2 separate regions of the Homo sapiens genome follow, and region 2 is linked to region 1. The links come from fine-mapping of genetic effects on gene expression. A gene starts in region 1. The other region holds a variant in brackets. All regions are shown on one strand. Distances are between the middles of the regions. Region 1 holds the start of POC5 (POC5 centriolar protein). Region 2 overlaps ANKDD1B (ankyrin repeat and death domain containing 1B).

Evidence for each region.
Region 2: its variant is fine-mapped to the expression of POC5 in whole blood (INTERVAL, PIP 0.92).

What each region holds. Positions count from the first base shown.
Region 1 is chr5:75,713,286-75,722,397 of GRCh38, forward strand. POC5 (POC5 centriolar protein) reads right to left here and starts at 4,152. Exons shown (of 12, transcript NM_001099271.2): 1 at 4,021-4,152. LOC441087 (a long non-coding RNA gene) reads left to right here and starts at 4,147. Exons shown (of 3, transcript NR_149046.1): 1 at 4,147-4,299; 2 at 6,650-6,772. RefSeq lists an enhancer at 3,548-3,857.
Region 2 is chr5:75,662,815-75,671,926 of GRCh38, forward strand. It overlaps ANKDD1B (ankyrin repeat and death domain containing 1B), which reads left to right. Exons shown (of 14, transcript NM_001276713.2): 11 at 580-675; 12 at 3,978-4,179; 13 at 6,438-6,569; 14 at 8,165-9,032. The coding sequence ends at 8,226. Among named protein-coding and RNA genes, the nearest start is that of POC5, 50 kb to the right of the region's middle. RefSeq lists enhancers at 555-1,754, 4,165-4,666. The variant A/G (reference allele first, on the strand shown) is at 4,650.

The DNA.
Region 1 (9,112 bases):
GAGAACAAACAATTTGTGCAAATTCCCTTCTTGGGAAACTTACCTTTGGAAATATTATTTTAAGAAAAGTGAGCTTATACAGAACAACAGAATCAAATATATGCATAGAGAATTTGTTGAAAGTCCTAATCAAAAAATCATTAAAAGTACTTTTAGTAACAAGTAACCGAATTATTCAAAGAACAAATAGTGACTATTCGAACTATCTGAATACCAGTAATATGTAAGACATTGGTGAGGAATGTAAAATGAAGTCCTCATTCTTAAGGAGTTTACAATCTGTAGAGAGGGCCAGGCATGTATATTATATAAGTGACCGACTGATGAATAAACTGCTGATAGGCCCTAAAATAACAGATACAAAGTAGAGAGATAGGAGTAGCTATTTTTCATGGGGTAAGATTGCATGACTGTAAATAAGCAGGAAAGGAGGCACAGAAAGTTTTTAGAGAAGATGACCCAGGTGTTGAGATCTGAAAGATGAGTAGGTCTCATCCTGAAAGATGGATAAAAGGTATAAACACAGGTGTAGATATTCTAGGCAGTAGAGCAATATAAGCAAAGACAGAGCCATGGACATGTATGCCACGAACAGCAAGCAGTTTGGTAAGGACAAAGCAATGGGTGCAAAGGATTGGCTAAGGATGAAACAAAAAGTAAGGAGCAGCCAGATCATGGAAGGTCAAAACTTGTCATATTAAAAATCTGGGTGTTTATTCTAGACAAGTTATTGAAATATTTTTTAAAAGTTACATGATCAGAAAGATCATTCCAGCAGCGTTGAGGATGAATTTGGATATTAAGAGAGATCAGGCTGGGTGCAGTGAATCATGCCTGTAATCCTAGCACTTTGGGAGGCTGAGGTAGGTGGATCACCTGAGGTCAGGAGTTTGAGACCAGCCTGGCCAACATGGCGAAACCCTGTCTCTATTAAAAATACAAAACAATTAGCCGAGCCTGGTGGCAGGTGCCTGTAATCCCAGCTACTTGGGAGGCTGAGGCAGGAGAATAGCTAGAACCCTGGGGGTGGAGGCTGCAGTGAGCCAAGATCGCACCACTGCACTCCAGCCTGGGTGACAGAGACTCCGTCTCAAAAAAAAAAGAGAGAGAGATCAATTGAGAGCTGACTGCAGTAGTCTAAGAGATAAATGTTCTCTTTGATAGTAATTAAGAAGATAAATGATGACCTAAGTCTAGGAAGTAGCAATGGGAAGGGGATGGAGGGTATGACTACAAGACAGTTGTGTTATGGTGATGGAAAGAGAAAATGATCAATAATAGATCAAGGGGTTAAAAAGAACTGTTGGTGGCTTCCAGATCTCCGGTTTGGGTAACTAGATGGATAGTGCCACTCACCAAGGCAAGGAAGGTAGGAAGATGAGCAGGTTGGGAGGAAGGACAATGAGTGCCATATCAGATGAGCTGGGTGTGAGGATGCCTCTGAGGCACTAGGGTAAAGCTGCAAGTATGCAGTCTGTGGTCACACTGGCTACGTAGTGCGCTACTCCAAGAACTGCCATTCACAATGGCTACACTGTGAATGGTGTTTCCTGGAGTTAAGCATTGTGGGAGCGCCGCACTGGAGGTATAAGTTGGAGATCCAGTTTGAGGAATCACTGGCATAATGGGAACTGCTGAAAAAAGGGAATGGATGAGACCACCTATAAAAAAGGAATGTGAGAAAAAGTTCTTATCCTGAGGTCCTGTATTAGTACGTTTTTCAAACTGCTATAAAGAACTGCCCAGGCCGGGCACGGTGGCTCATGCCTGCAATCCCAGCACTTTGGGAGGCTGAGGTGGGAGGATTACGAGGTCAGGAGATCAAGACCATACTAGCTAACACGGTGAAACCCCGTCTCCACTAAATACAAAAAATTAGCCTGGCGTGGTGGTGGGCGCCTGTAGTCCCAGCTACTTGGGAGGCTGAGGCAGGAGAATGGCGTGAACCCGGGAGGCGGAGCTCATAGTGAGCCAAGATCGCGCCGCTGCACTCCAGCCTGGGCGACAGAGTGAGACTCCGTCTCAAAAAAAAAAAAAAAAAAAAAGAACTGCCCAAAACTGGGTAATTTATAAATAAAAGAATTTTTATTGACTCACAGTTCCGCATGTCTGGGGAGGCCTCAGGAAACTTAAAATCATGGTAGAAGGGGAAGCAGGCACATCTTAGATGGCGGCAGGTGAGACAGTATGTGAGAGAGTGCAGGAAAAACTACCATTTATAAAACCATCAGATCTCGTGAGAATTCACTATCATGAGAACAGCACGGGGGAAATCGCCCTTATAATCCAATCACTTCCCTTCCCCTACATGTGGAGATTACAATTGAAGATGGGATTTGAGTGGGGACACAAGACCTAACCATATCAGGTCCCTATACCCGACTCGTATGCAATATTTTTATCATAAATGTGAATGTGTATTTTTCTAGAAAGAAGATCTTTCGCTTTAAATATGCGTTCAGAGGGGACCATAGCCCTAATAGAGTTAAGGACTACGACTGTGAATGAGAAGAGGGTTAAAGCCAGAACCACTAACATCTAAAGGGCAAGAGAAGAACAGTCAGCAAAGAAGAGGAGTCAGCAAAGGAAGTCAGAACATTAGAACTATGGAAGCAATATCACAACTTTGAGAAGAAAATAGAATTAGATGCCAAAGAACCATGAGGATTGGATAGAATTTGGAGATTAGGAGGTTGCTGAGACGTTTGCTTGAACAATTTCACTGGAAAGTAAAACAATTACAGGTCTTAGTCACAGTGGGCTGAAAAATAAATGAGAGATGAGGAAATTGAAATAGAAAAGGAAGATACAGGGAAAAGTGCAAAAATAGAATGGAAACACAGGCTGGAACTAAATTGTGGAAAGGAAAGTTCAACTTTTTCCAGTGAGTATCACTGTGCATACACATGTTAAGTAAACTAAATCTCAGCATGACTGTCTTTAGTTAAGCCAATTAGGGAGGATAAAATAAGTGCATGTATCTGCAGCAAGGAATGGCTGCTTCACTGACTTCAAATCTACCACTGTGATAACTTGGTCCATTTATATTTTTATTCACTTCTTCCTTCAGGATTTGAGACCAGGCAGGTAACAGGGGTGGGGGGGGGGGGGTGCTGATTATTTAAAAATGAGCTAGTAAGTATGGTCAGATCTCAAAAATTGTTTCTTAATATGGACACACTGCAGACACAAAAAAACCCACCGCACTCTTGGAAAATATGCTATCTTCCATCTGCCCTGCTTTATGTCAACAAGGTATGAGTTATTTGAAACTCTAGAACAGTAGCATTTTCCTTACTGTTTCTAGGTTCAGAAACAAAGGAGAAAAATGAAAACTGCTTTAATGGGTGGCGGACGCACATTAGTTCACTACATTTTCAGTAGTCTCTAATCCAAGGTATCAGAAAACAAGATCAAAACTTTTGTGTGCTTCTCTGTTGCCAGAAACATAAAATAACATCTTGGTAATTATCTGGCTGACAGCAAAACAGGGGTCTGGGAATTCAAATGGAACCCCCAAGAGGCAAAGGAAGAGCGAATTAACATGCAAACTAGCAGCAGGGTGATGTCGCCTGTGCCTTTCACCAGGCCTAGCTGCACTCAAGGAAAGGGGCGCGCCAGCCCCTCCCCAAAGCAGGGACTAGAAGCAGAGGAGAAAAGCCATTGCAGTAAGCAAAAGGCCATAAGTTTTCTTCCATCACCTTCCGACCCAGCCTGTTTTAAGAAAAATCTTACTTAAGCACAACAGAGCTTTATACATGGTTATTTTTTCTCAACGTTTTAAGTGACCGGAACCTCTGATGACAGTAATCGCTCAGCATCCCTCACTCCTGCTCACTTCCTCTTCCTGCACGCCTCGGAGGGGAAACTTTGGGACCTTCCGGCACAACAGCTGAATCACTCGCGGTCTGGGGAAGAGCCCAGGGGGAGGAAACACGCGCCAAGGAACTTTAAATCTCCCTCCACTACTTTCGCCAGGGATGCAGGGACGCAGGATCTGCCCGGAGCGCTGCTACCCACCGTCGCCGCTCGCGACCAAATCCCGACTCCTCGCTCTGCGCCTCTTAGCCGCGTCGCAGCTGCAGTGTCAGCAAGTGCAGCCTCAGCAAGCACAACCGCTACCTAGACGGCAACCTGACAGTTTCAAACTGCAGGGAGGAATTAAGGACCGCCCTGGGCATTGGTCCTTTGTTTCAGCAATCTGCCGTTTGATTGGTCCGAGAGCTGGGGGCGGGGATTTGGGCCGCTGCCGGGAGAAGCCGGAATTACTTTGGAGAGCCCCGCCCCCTGGCTCCGCAGGTTGGTAGGGGGCGGGGTCCTAGGGAGCCCCACCCAGCGCCCGTGGGGATTAAATATTGCGCGTGCTCAGTTCTGTTCAGCGGCTGCAGGCTGCTAAGCGGCTCCGGGAGCTGATTTGGATAGAGGCTGTTGAGCAGGGCTGAAGTTGGCTAATGCCGTGTGCTGTTGGCTTTCAACAATTCCGGTAACCTAGATATGAGTCCTAATGCTTTCGTCTGCATAAGAACAATCCGAAATTCTGGGCCAGGTGTGGTGGTTCATGCCAGTAATCCCGGCACTTTGGGAGGCCGAAGTGGGAGGATCGCTTGAGCCCGGGAGTTCGAGACTAGTCTGGGGAACATAGGGAGACCCTTTCTCTATAAAAAATTAAAAACAAAAAAAAAATCTGCATCATCCACAGATCCCCTGCAACAGAATCACTTGGAGGTGCTTTTTTTTTTTTTGAGATGGAGTCTTGCTCTGCCGTCCAGGCTGGTGTGCAGTGGCACTATCTCGGCTCACTGCAACCTCCGCCTCCCAGGTTCAAGGGATTCTCCTGCCTCAGCCTCCCGAGTAGCTGGGATTACAGACGACCGCCACCACGCCTGGCTAATTTTTGTATTTTTAGTAGAGATGGAGTTTCACCATGTTGGCCAGGCTGGTCTCGAACTCCTGACCTCAGGTGTTCCGCCCACCTCGGCCTCCCAAAGTGCTGGGATTACAGGCGTGAGCCACCACGCCCGGCCGAAGGTGTTGATTCCTTCGGTCATGGACACCGTCAGGAAATCTGAATTTTTAACACACACTGCCAGTGATTCTGATGCAGGAGTCTGCAGACCACCCTTTGAGAAATTGCTAGTCTAGGCTGGGCGCGTTGGCTCACGCCTGTAATCCCAACACTTTGGGAGGACGAGGCAGGCGGATCACCTGCGGTCAGGAGTTCGAGACCAGGCTGGCCAACATGGTGAAACCCCATCTCTACTAAAAATACAAAAATTAGCCGGGTGTGGTGGCTTACGCCTGTAGTCCCAGCTACTCCGAAGGCTGAGGCAGGAGAATCCCTTAAACCCAGGAGGCAGAGGTTGCAGTGAGCCAAGATATCGCCACTGCACTCCTGCCTGGGTGATAGTGAGACTCTGTCTCAAAAAACAAAGAAAAAACCAAAATTGGTAGTCTAGTTTTAACTAATCTCAAACGTGTCAGACTTCAAGATAGAGCCTTCTGGTGAAGTATTGGCCTTAGAATCAGATCATAATTATAATCTAGCTTTACCATCTACTCGCTGTCACCTTGGATAATACTACTCACATACTAAGGTGGTAGGAGATTAAAGGAATTAATATATCTAAAACACCGAACACACAAACATATAGTCTTTCAACTTACATTGGCAACAGATAGGCTAGAGGTATGAGGACCCAGATGGCAAAGGTACCTAAGTAGCCCAGACTGGGGTTCTGCAATCTGAAGAACAGATACTGAGATCTGGGTGAGTTTTCAGGCTCCCTTCTGTTACCTCCAGTATAAGGTTTCTTTTTCTGTAGATAGAAATGACATAACCTGGGTCTCACTTACTTTTATGTTGGCAGAACCAGACTTCTACTTACACAAACAAGTAAGAAGAGCACCAGAAGTTTCTTTGGCATAAATTATGTTTGTTCTCCCCCTTTTTTTTCATGCTTATTATAGAGGACAAGTTCCTATTAATAGCTGCAAATTCATACTTGGTTCTAGTATTTGTTTTTTAATTGAATTGCCTTTTGGTGACCCCATACACTATAATTGATACTGAATCACTCTTCTGGTGCCCTCCTGCCACTAGGCTCCAAGTTTCTCTTTTCTGTCTTCCTTTTTGGGGAGGAGAGATTTTTATCGCAAACCATTTAGTAAACAATCCCATTCTCCTGTAAAACTATAGAGAGAAAGAGACAGAACCTTGTCTGGATGTTATGAATTTAGAACTGATATCTTTTCCCAAGGTTCCTAGAGAGGGAGGGAAAGAGAGAGAGAGAGAATTTAAAGCCCCCACAAACCCATAATAACTTGGTTGCCAGCTTGAACCCTTCATAATTATTTATTCATTCAACACAAATATTTAACATCTGTCACAGGCAAAGCAAATTTTTGTTGGTGCTGGGGATAGAGTGGTGAGCAAAACACAGTTTGCCCTCATGGAACTAAGAGTCTAATGGGAAAAACCGATATCAAACCAACAAATCCACCACACATATGAATACATAACAGCTGTGTGAACCTGGGCAAGCTGCATAACCTCTCTGTACTTCGGTTTCTGTATCTGAAAAATGAGGGTAGGAATTCGCTCACTGAGAATTAAATTAACGTAGGTGCTATTCTTATCCTCATTTTTCAGATAGAGAAACTGAAGCACAGAGAGGTTATGCAGCTTTCCCAGGTTCATGTAGCTGGTAAGAACAGAGTCCATGTTCTTATCACTCAAGATGTTCTGTTGGGGACGGCATGCCATGGTCTTAAGGTAAGAAAGGGCTAAGTGAGTGAAGAGAAAGTGGCACAGGATGAGGCTGCAGATAGAGATGGAGGCCCAACTATGCAGGACTTGTTAAGGATTTGAGATTTTAAGTTCAATGGGATGTATTTTAGATATTCAGGAGAGAGATGAGGACAACTTGAACTAGACGAGTGGCAAAGGAGATGGAGAGAAGACAGAAATGAGATACAGTCATCACTTGCTATTCCTAGGGATTGGTTCCAGGACCACTCCTGATGTCTTCCCCTCCCCCTCCGCCAAAGTAAATACCAAAATTGAGGATGCTCAATTCGCTTATATAAAATGGTATAGTATTTGCATATAACCTACAGACATCCTCCCATGTACTTTAAATAATCTCTAGATTACTTATAATACCTAACATAATGTAAATATATGTATGTAAATGGTTGTTATATTTTATTGTTTTTTATTTGTATTATTTTTTACTTTTAAAATTTACTTTTTTGAATATTTTTGATCCACGGTTGGCTAAATCTGCTGATGTGGGACCTGAGGATATAGGGGGCCAACTGTATGTTTTGGAGGTATAATTGGTGGGACTTGATGATAGGATTTGGACTGTATCTGAGGTGAAGGAGAGAAAAGTGTGAAGGACTCCAGGTTTCAGGTTTCTCGCTTGAGCAACTGAGTGGATGACAGCATCAGATATTGAGGAGAACACTGGAAGAGGAGCAGGTTTTGAAAGTGGAAGATCAAAATTGAATTTTAAACATTCTTTAAACATGAAATATCTGGAGATACCCAAATGGAGTATCCATCAGACCACTGAACTTACATGTCTAGGGCTCAGAAAAGAGGTCACTGCCTAGATATATAAACTGGGTGGCTTTTGCATATAGATTTTGTGGAGGATTGCAAAAATGGCTCCAATTCTACATCTCTCCAGGTATTGATGTCCTGTGCCATGCAATTTCACTTGGAGTGCTTCTCTACTAATGACCAACGGAATGTTAACAAATATGATGCAAGCGGAAGTTTCAAAATACTTACGTGCTTGGCTTAGCTTGCTCTTGCCCTCTGTTACAACGATGAAATACGCCTGGGCTAGCCTGCTGGAAGATGAAAGACACATGTAGTAGAGCCAAGTTGCCCCAGTCATCCTAGCCAAGGCCATCCTAGGTCAGCCTATAGCCATTTGACTCCCCAACAGGTGTGTGAATCTAAGAACCACCCAGACAACCTACAGAGTCATGAACTCAATTATTATTGACTGTTTAAAGTCACTGTGTTTAGGGTGGTTTGTTATGTAAGCTTATTATGACAATAGATAACTGATACAGATGCACTTTAAAGCCAAAGAACTAGATGAGACAATCTAGTGGGGGAGAGCAAAATGAGTAGAGAAGAGGATTTGGAACTGAACCCTGATGTCCTCTAATGTTTAGAGGTTGGGTAGCAATGGAGGAGCCAGCAAAGGAGACTGAGAAGGAGGTGCTGGAGAAGTGGGAGGAAAACCAGCAGAGGCTTCAGTAAAATGCTAGTGAAGTGACTATTGTGTTTGACAATATGGAGTTCCCCCATGTCTTGGCCCTTCCATGGGCCCCAAGTTCTGAACCTCCTCTAGTACCTGTCTTCTTTCCATCTCTCATGTTTTTGGTTAAGCCACTGCTGAATTTGGCTTGGACTGTTTCTTGATTGTATGCCTTCATTTCTTCTTTCTACAATTCACTCTTCACACTGCTGATAAACTATCTTCTTAGAATATCACTGGATTGCATCACCTATCCAAAAGCCTTCCACGGTATTGCATGGCATCCAAAGCTCTCCTAAACCAAGCCCCACAAAACACCAAAAGGACTATGCTGGAGTCCCCAAATGTACCACTTATCAGGTAGGAAACTTTGGGGCAGGTGTACATTCTTTATATGCTTGAGTTTCATCTCTTTAAAATTGAGAAAGTATTAGAACATATAAAATCTAACTCTACATCTAAACCAGGACCTGAACGTAAATCTATTGTCTCTCTCTCTCTCTTTTTCTGTCTCTCAATATCAGTTCCCTCCTGCTCTAGTAAACTAATTGAAGCTGAGCATATAGCTGCATAGCAGGACTACCTTTTCCACCTACCTATCAATTAAGTGAGGCCAGAAGCCATAGAATGTGAGTGGAAATGCAGTGTATCACTTCCTGTGAACTGGGATTTAAGACATTAGGTGTCTTTCTCCAAGTCTTCTTCTCTTTTCCCACTATGGTGGGCTGCATGACCATGTGGAATATAACTCTCCTGCTAGTTCTGTAGTATGAGAAAACATCTTTTTAAAAAAGTTTTTATATTTGAGGGTCAATTTTTCATGGCTTTTAACT
Region 2 (9,112 bases), 50 kb before region 1:
TTGGTGAGAGGCAGTATGGTATAATAGAAAAAATTTCTAGTTAGGGGTCCAGTGACCTATGAATTACCAGGGTTGCCATTATTGATATTATTCTTAATAAGATCCAGCCCTTTTCTGTCTTATTACTCAGTGCTCCTCAAAACATGGCTTCTACTTCCTGGTCTAAAGTGGCTGTTCAGGCTCCTGCCATCATGTCAGCATTCCACTCAGGAGGGAGAAGAAAAGAAGGAAAATGCCATTCATCTCTCTTCTGTTTAAAGATACTTCCCAGAAGTTGCATGTCCCACTTCTATTTACAGACCATTGGCCAGAACTTAGGTCACATAACTAACTGCAAAAGAGGCTAGGAAATATTCAGGGTGGCACAGGTTCTAAAGGCTTTATATGCATTATCACATTTACCCCTGACCACTCCACTATGGGGTAGTTATAAAGACCCAAAGAAGCAAAGGACTGGCCTAAGTTTACCCAGCATGGGCTGGTAGAATCAAGATTTGAACCGAGGCCCCCTTGTTCCAAAACTAGAGCTCCTAATCACTAGGCCATATCACCTGAATTTTTTTTCTTTTTTAATTTTAGCAAGGAAAGACTGCCCTGGCTGTGGCCTCCAGGAGCAACCATAGCCTTGTCGTGGGCATGCTCATTAAAGCAGAGAGATACTACGCCTGGAGAGAGGTAAGGAAGGACGATCCCAGCACAGCAGGGGCTTTCCTGGCAACACCCATCTTCTTGCAGGGGCAATGGGGGGGTCTGTGCCATTCTTTGCTCTAATGAGCAGAGCTCTGGTCAGTACAATTATAACTGTCCCTTCTGTCTTGTGCTGCCCCCATTCGTGGAATGAACAGCTGCCTCTTCCTTTGTGGACATCAGACGTCAGAACTGAGAGCGCGTAGAGTTCACTAGGGCCAAGCGGCATTGACCAGGCCAGCTATAATGGGCCTAGCGTGTGAGCCCCTGATGGGTGACGCCTGGTTGTTCCCTCTGTCCACAGTCTGGCCATGAGCTATTCCCAGTAGCACGAATGAGTGGTTAAAAAACTCCTTTGTGTGGCTCGGCAGTTTTCAACACACCGCTGTGCAGGCTTTCAGGCACTCAAGTATTCTGTGAGAGTCACGAAAACCTTATTCATCTAAGAACACAAAAAAACTTGTCTGTAAGTCATTCTTTTTGCTGTTCTTTTATTTTTATTTCCTCTGATATCTGCTACCCATGCAGCTTCTCAATAGACTGCCCTCCCCTGCAAGATTCAACTCCATGCCCTCAGGCAAGAATGGCACTGCCAGGCACCATTCTTGATTTATAGTGATGTGTTGTTTCCATTCTAGGCTGCGTGGCTACCCCTGGCCCAATGTGTTAGCTCCAGAATTCAGGCCCTAATCACTTGGAGCCCACCCTGAGTTTCTACAAACCTGGATTGCTGTCCACCTGGCCAGTCTTGGGAAATTTCCCTTAAATCCTTAAAGCAAAAAGCATTTACTCATCTCCTTCTCTCTCACAATCCTGTTTAATTAGCTTGGTAGTCTTGATATATATGGATTCTTTTAAAGGTCACACCATCCTCCTTGCAACTTTTCTTGCCTGTAAAACAAAACAAAAAAAGTGCTTTGCTTGTAAAACTTTTTATTTTAACAATTGGAACTCTGTTTCTTCTCTCCCATTCCTCATATTTCTATGTTCTTCCATCTCCTCCCTTTACCTCTTCCTCTTTTCCTATCCTCAGGCTCAATTTCTTAAATTATCATTGTATTTTATTGAAGACAACTTTGCCAAGTTCCATCTTTTCTCTTTCTCTTTAACTTGCTTTCACATTTTCTTTGGAAATAGAAATATTCATTGGTTCTATTTTTAATTCCTGATAGCTCTTTAAAAATTATTTTGGGTAGATAAGAATAAATTACTTTCCCACCAAATGAATATGCCCTCTTTCCTAATGAATCTTTAAGACATAAGAGTTAGGTATACTTTGAAAACCATATATAAAACATGAATATAGCTAAAGGAGACCCCCAGAAATGGTAAGAGTTGTTAACTCCGGTGACAATTGGGGTCCTGGGGTCTGGAGTGGGAGAAATACTTGTTTTTTAAGATACATCTTTAAATATTTTTTTAACCAAATGCATTTATTATTTTAAATTCTCTTTGTTCATTGAACAAGTTTATATCCTCGCCTAATATAAAATGGTTCCTAGTAAAAGGATTAAAGATATGATTTAAATTTCCTCTCTCATATCCATTTATCCATTAACCTAACCACCCAATCATCCATTATTAAATTCAGTGGTTCAGAGGCAAATGGGAGCTTCCTAAAACCTGGCTTATGTTATTTTAATTTCCACCAGTTCTGGCTCATGTTATTCCTGCAAATAGTTCAGTGTTTTGGCAGGCAAGCTATTTAATGCTTCACTGGCTGCTGAAAAAGACCTAGGCTTTCCAAATCTCCTGCCCTTTTCAATGGAAGCCTAAGGGACCACCCAATCCAATCCTGAAAGGCACAAACCATGTAAGTTTCTTGAAGAGCTAAAAATGTTATCGCACAAAGATAGATGCAGAAGCATTTTGTGTTCTTCCCTTTCCCTTGTGACATTTAGGCTCTTGATCTTGTTGGATTCATCATTGTTTCAGGAGATGGAATGAGGAGAGAAGGACAAAGTGAAGTGGCCCACAGCTCCCAAGTTTGCTGGAGCTCCCCATCCTCAATCTTACTTCTTTTAGAATTCCTGGGAGCTAGGCACTGTGGAAGTAAAGCTGAGGCTGGGTTGGAGAAGACCCTGCTTTTTACAGTCTCTAAAACAATTATGGGTAATTCACACCTCCCATTCCTATTTCAACTTCTGTACACAAAGTTCAGATACTAGAGGAAGGTTTTGCCCTTCTTGGCCAAGCTTCCCGGGAGGAGCTTATTGCATTTCCCTTGTCGAGCTTCCTGGAGGAGGTTTCTGATGCTGTGAAGGATCCATGGTGGGGGCCCATCAAGTTCTTCTCATCAGTTTTTAAACCCAGGGTCCTAGACAGTTTTGGTTCATTTCCTGCCCCAGCCTGGATTCCCATCTTGTTGTCAAGAATATTTTCATTAAGATACACCTCTATTTAAGTGAAAGACAAAAATAGAAGTCACTATACATGAGAAAGGAAGTCCCAGACTTCTTGGTGGGCCACTTGTCCTGCATGTCCTTAACTGATCTGCAAACTTCTGCAGGAGGATTACCTGGAGGCCTAGTGGCATAAGCACAGCATGCAGTTCTAGGAAGCAGTGATGCCTGCTTTCACTCAGTGATTTTCTCCGGTGTTTGTGGTTTGATTCTGCAGGACTCTGGTGGATTCTGCAGAAGGGACAAAAGGAACCTTTCAACAGTCAGAAAACAAGATGCCAATCTAGGCATAGTGCTGTTGGTCTGAGCCTGGCTATAGTGACTTTAAATGATGTCCACTCCTGTCCTCTCCACTCCCTTAGTCACCTCTTCCCCAAGCCCCAGCCTGAGCTAGGCTCCTAGTTTACTCTCCTTATGCTCACCAGAGAGCAGGATGAATGAGGGACCAGCTGTGGGGTCTTATTAAGGATACAGCCAATCTGGGCTCACCGAAGCTTCAATATGAGAACATCAAATACCCAAAAGAAGAAATGGGGGTATGGGTTCAAACAAAGGCCATTAAAGATGGTTTTGTTGTTGTGACACATCCTTTGCCAAGACAGCCTCTCTGTTCTCATTCTCTGTTCTAAGCAGCATGGGACACAATAGGCAAAATCCCTCACATTTCCTGTGTCAGACAGACGGTACCCAAGCTTTTAATTTCAAGCATTTATTTCCATTTTGGATGGCAAAAAAAAAAAATATATATATGATCCAGTGACAGGAGGCATTGAAAACATAGTCTCGGTTACCACCTTACTAGTTATGTTTGAAAAACATATATACTCTGAAATAAGGTAATAAGTAGAACATGTCTGAAATCTTCTGATACAATTATTTTCACTTTAGGAGCATCATGAGAGCATCAGGGACCCGTCAACAGGCTTTACTCTGACATTCAAGCAAGATCACAGTCTGGAGACCAGACACATTCGCACGCTTCTCTGGGACCTGGCTTACCATCAGCTGAAGGCCAATGAGTGGCAGAGGCTGGCCCGTTCGTGGAACTTTACAGATGACCAGATTAGAGCCATTGAGGAGCAGTGGTCGGGTGAGTACAGACTAGATGATGTGGGCAGGAGGAATTCACTGTTAGGAACAGCAGTGCCTCCTGGTGTGAGGTCTTCCAAGGAAGTGTGTGGCACTCACAATAAGCTGCAGTCTTCAAGGGGCCCAGGAATAGGGGCAGTTAGCTTAGGTCCACACCAGTGATTTGGGCATTAAGATTTGCAGAAAGTGAACACTCATGGTCTGCAGTAAACCGAAGTTTGTAAAGGATGATTATGTGTATTGACCCATATCAGACATGTGCATTTAGCCTAGAGAGACAGTAAGATTCCCAACTGGACGGTCACTAAGGAAGCAAGCAAGGATTTAACAGTTGGTGTGTCAGTGGGAAGCCAATCTGATTTCTATGTTCCTTGAGACTGTCCTGGGGTGAATGGGTTCATTCTGTAATCAATAGGCTCGCTGTTTAAGTCTGCGCTCCAGAAAGAGGAATTCCTTAAAGCAGGTGGGTGT[A/G]GGAGAAAGGGTTGTTGTAGGACACTGCCTTAGGGGAGACTTGGCTGTGCCATGAGCGACACGGCAAATACAGACTCAGAGGGCTTTCTTGGCTAGATGATTCCAAGCAATGGAATCATTTCAGCTGGACTCAAACTGTCATAATTAGTGAAGTCAGGTCAGCTAGATTCCTTAATTTTGTTTTTTGTGGTTAGACGAAAACCTAGGAAACATAGAAAGTTTACTTGGCATTAATCAACTAATTAGCTTTGAAAACAATGAAGCAAACATGTTTCTTGGCAAAGTTTTCTATTCAGAGCACTGCCCTCTCATGGACATCCTAAGACGAGAAGGTGTCCTTGCTCAGGGGTCTATTTGTATTAGGGATTGCTGGGAACTGGGGATGGCAGAAGCACAGTCCATGAGCACACACTATTTATACCACATACAAGTAAATTATGAGACTTTGTATTGCACATTCTTAGGATACATTTTCATGTGAAAAATAGAAGATAATGTATTGAAAACATTGAATACTAACTAGTTTCTAACTAGAAAAATTTTTTTATTGTTAAGATTTCTTTTTTGTCATTAATTAGGCTTATAGTGTTCTGTGAAGTCTTTAGGAAAATTGAGTTGCCTCCTGGAACTCTAACTTGACCTAAAGAGATGACTTGAAAATATAGTGTATCTTCAGAGTACTTGCCAGCAGGATAAGGGGGATTTTAAAGTGTTTCGATGGAACCTTTATGGAGGGCCTGGAGTGTTTATTTCTGCTGGATGAGGGATAGATACATCAGCTCTCTAAGCCATGCATGTTTGATGGAGTTTATAATCTAGTTGGCACAATAACAATGACACTTGCAATTCAATTATATTGTGATCCAGGGTAAGGTTACTGGCACTGGGGAGTTTGTGGGCTTTTGATCAAAGGAGTGACAGACTCATGATGGTATTTAAGAAAAATTAGTTTGTCAAGAGCAAGATTAGGAAAGGAACAGAGGACTTGTCCAGGAGTACATTCTGTAAGTATGCAGTTCCCTCTCCCTGAAATGCCCGCTTCTCCATATCAGTCTGTCCAGTGAACTTCTCCCTCACCCCTGCAGAGCTCAGGCCCTTCCCTTGCACAGCATGTCTGCTCCTGCACACTCTCTCTCAGAGCAAGGAGCCTGTAGTGAAGTCCTGTTGGGAACCACAGAGGCTTTGTGGCTCCCTATCCCGGTACTTCCCCCAACACCTCTCTAGGCTGAGATATGCAGTGAGTATTTATCAAATGAATAATCCTGGCCCAGGGATGCAAACTTCCCTCAGAGTAGCTTCCTTGAGACTGGAGTGGCAGAATGAATGGTGCATGCTTGCTGCTCAGAGTGGGGAATATGGAGCAGCAGTGGCAGCAGCACCCGGGAGTTTGTTAGATGCATGGATTCTTACCCCAGACCTACTGAATCCAAACTTGCATTTTAGTAAGATACCCAGGTGAAATAAGCACTGTGAGTTTGAAGAGCACTGGTCTATGAGAAGTTGCATATTTCATTAAAATTGTTCCCCCTGGGCAGGCACCACAGCTGTCCTCTCTCTTGTACACTCCTTTGGGTGTGTGCCAAGCATAGCAGGTGCATAGCACAGGCTGGAGGGAAAGCAAATGCTGGTCATCATAAAGCAGCACAGCGAGGGCAACTGGAAGGGCTTTTTTCGAAGAGGAACAGGCAAGCAAACAGTCATTCAGAAAGTTTAGTTGGAACTGAGATCACAATGGAAAGAGATAGCAGCTCGTGGTGTTTTACCTCGGACCTCTTGTGCTTGGCACAGGAAATGAAAGCTTCCGTGAACATGGCCACAGGGCTCTGCTTATCTGGCTACACGGGACCCTGATGACTCAGGGTGACCCGGCCAAGCAACTGTATGAAGAGCTGGTACACGCAGGTTTCCCAAAACTAGCTGGTAAGTGACAGTTTCAACAACAGAAATTCTTTCTCCCTTAAAATTTCAGGAAGCAGTCTACAGAAATATCATCCTGACCAGCTACAGCCCCAGCGTGGTGTTAGCTGTGGCTCACACGGAGTATGGAACTATGGAAGGGGCTTGTAAGCTGTCAGCAGCTTCTCCTTTGGGGAATGACCCAGTCAATACTGGTTACTCATTAGCCTGGCAGTTCTGTGTCATCCCCCTACTCAGCATTTGAAAAAGTGTGGGAGTGTTTTTGTTTATGTGTATGTGTGGTGGGGGCAGGTGGGGTGGGGCAGAAGTGCTAAACTATCCCATACAGTTATAGGATTGTTCTCCACGACTAAGAGTTGTCTTGCTCAAAATGCCATTTTACCCCTGTTGATAAACTGCAGGTTAGTGTATTTGAAAATGTTATCTCTAGGTAGAACAAAAAGAGCAGACAGGCTATTACTTTGCCACCTGAGGTTATTGCTAAAAATCAGTCTGCCAAAATCACTGACCATATTGTCAGGAAAGATCCTTTAAAAACTTATCAATAAATTAGGCGGTGTTGTAGCTCTCATGTAATAACAAGCATTCAAGCAAAATACAGGAACATCTGCCATTATTTTCACTGAAGCAGTTTTACCTGGAGCAAGAAGATAAATGAGTGAACACCGACTGATCCAATAGTTTCCAGCAGTAGTAGGTACAAGGAACAATGTGTGGATACTTACCTTCCATCACATGATCTCATAATATTGGAGTTTTTCCCTCAACTTTTACCCTGTTCCCATTGGCCCCGAGAATACTCACCAGTGGTGCTTGCAGCATTTACCCTGAAAAAACTTTGCCATGAATTATCTTGTTTTTATTATTATTTTTGGATCACTCTAGTATATTGACTTTGGAAACAAAAGATATCATTCTACTTATAGCATTCTGGTTTTACTAGTGGTATTTCCATTTACAAAATATGGAAATTCTTGATCATTGAAAATGTCAAGTCCTAGAAAATGTAGCATTCCTATATGTGATGTTAACATCGTTCTCAAACAATTGTTGGCCAAAGATTCATTCCATGAATCCAATTTTTCAGAAATTGATGATTCGGATGATTCAGACTATTCTGATGTTAGTTCTGTTTAGAAATAACTCCAAGAAGTTTGTATATTTGTTTTTCACAATGAAAATCAGATTTGCTTCAGCCTCAAAGAGCGTATTTATGTAAAATTGAAGAAGTGCTGGCAGTGAGCTGCACTTTTTTTTCTAAATGGGAAAAGGGTTAAATGTATTCTTCCTATGAAAGAGGTTCCATAAGAACTCTTAGAGAAGATGAAGATGCAGTCCACTGAACTGGCTAAGGGTATGTGTTCTGACGCAAGGCTGTGTGAGCTCACTCTTGAACTCCAAAGCTGACTGACTGGTTGTAAACCTCGAGCAAGTTCTATGACCTTCCTGTGACAACCTTCTCATTTATTAACTAGGAAAGAAAATAAAAATGTTTACTTCAAAGGGCTGTTGTGGGATTTAATGAATAATAGTGCCTGGTAGACAATCAGTGCTTTAAAAATTTTAGGTATTCATAAATGTTATCTTATTTTTTCCAGAAAAGACTCGTCATTTCAAAAGCAAAACTGACTCAAACTCCAAGAAATGTGTAGTTTCATAAATGCCTAAAGAAATTGTATTTACATGATTTTCCACTCAGCATTCAGTTCTTTTAATGCCATAAATTTCTTCTAGCAGTAGCACTGATTTTCAACTATGATGATGGTGGTGACAGGGAACTCTAACAGATGAAAGAAGAGTAATACCATGATACTTTTCAACCACTAAAAAGTCAAATATAGTTTTTTTTGCTGAGGGCAAGTTGTATGTGATTTTCCCATTTCTATCAATCATTTGATGTAATCCATGTAATAAGATAATCTAGGACGGTTTTGTATGTCATGTTTTTTTAAAAAACTCATGGGAGCAGCATCATGGTACAGTAAAAAAACAAGGGTTTTTATAATAGACAAATATGGTTTTGAACTTGGTTTTGCCACTTATTAGATGTGAACCTTTGGGCATGTTAATGTTGTTTACGTTCTTAGATCTTCAGTTTCCTTCTCTATAAACTGGGAGAGATGTCTATTTAATCCATAGGGTTGGAATGAAGATGAAGGGAAAATGCCTGTGTAGCCTCACGCCCATAGTACGGAAATCAACTGCTATTTCTCTTTCAGTAAGAGAAACTGGGTTTGGAATTTATAGTCATTGTTGACTTTAAATCACACATTTTGTGTAATATATTACTTAGGAAAGACCAGAAGTATGTACACCATTTTTTTTTTTTTTTAAATCTCTTGGTGATGTAATTACAGATGATTATTTTCTTTGTACTTTTGGGTACATTCCATTCTTTTTTTCACAAAGAACATGCATTATTTTTGTAATCTAAGAGTTATGAAATAAATGTAAAATTGAGTGTCAGTTTATGTGCACCTATTCATTGGAATTTAAGACTCTCCATTCTCAGATTCTGACTCTAAATTTACAAGGCACATACTAAA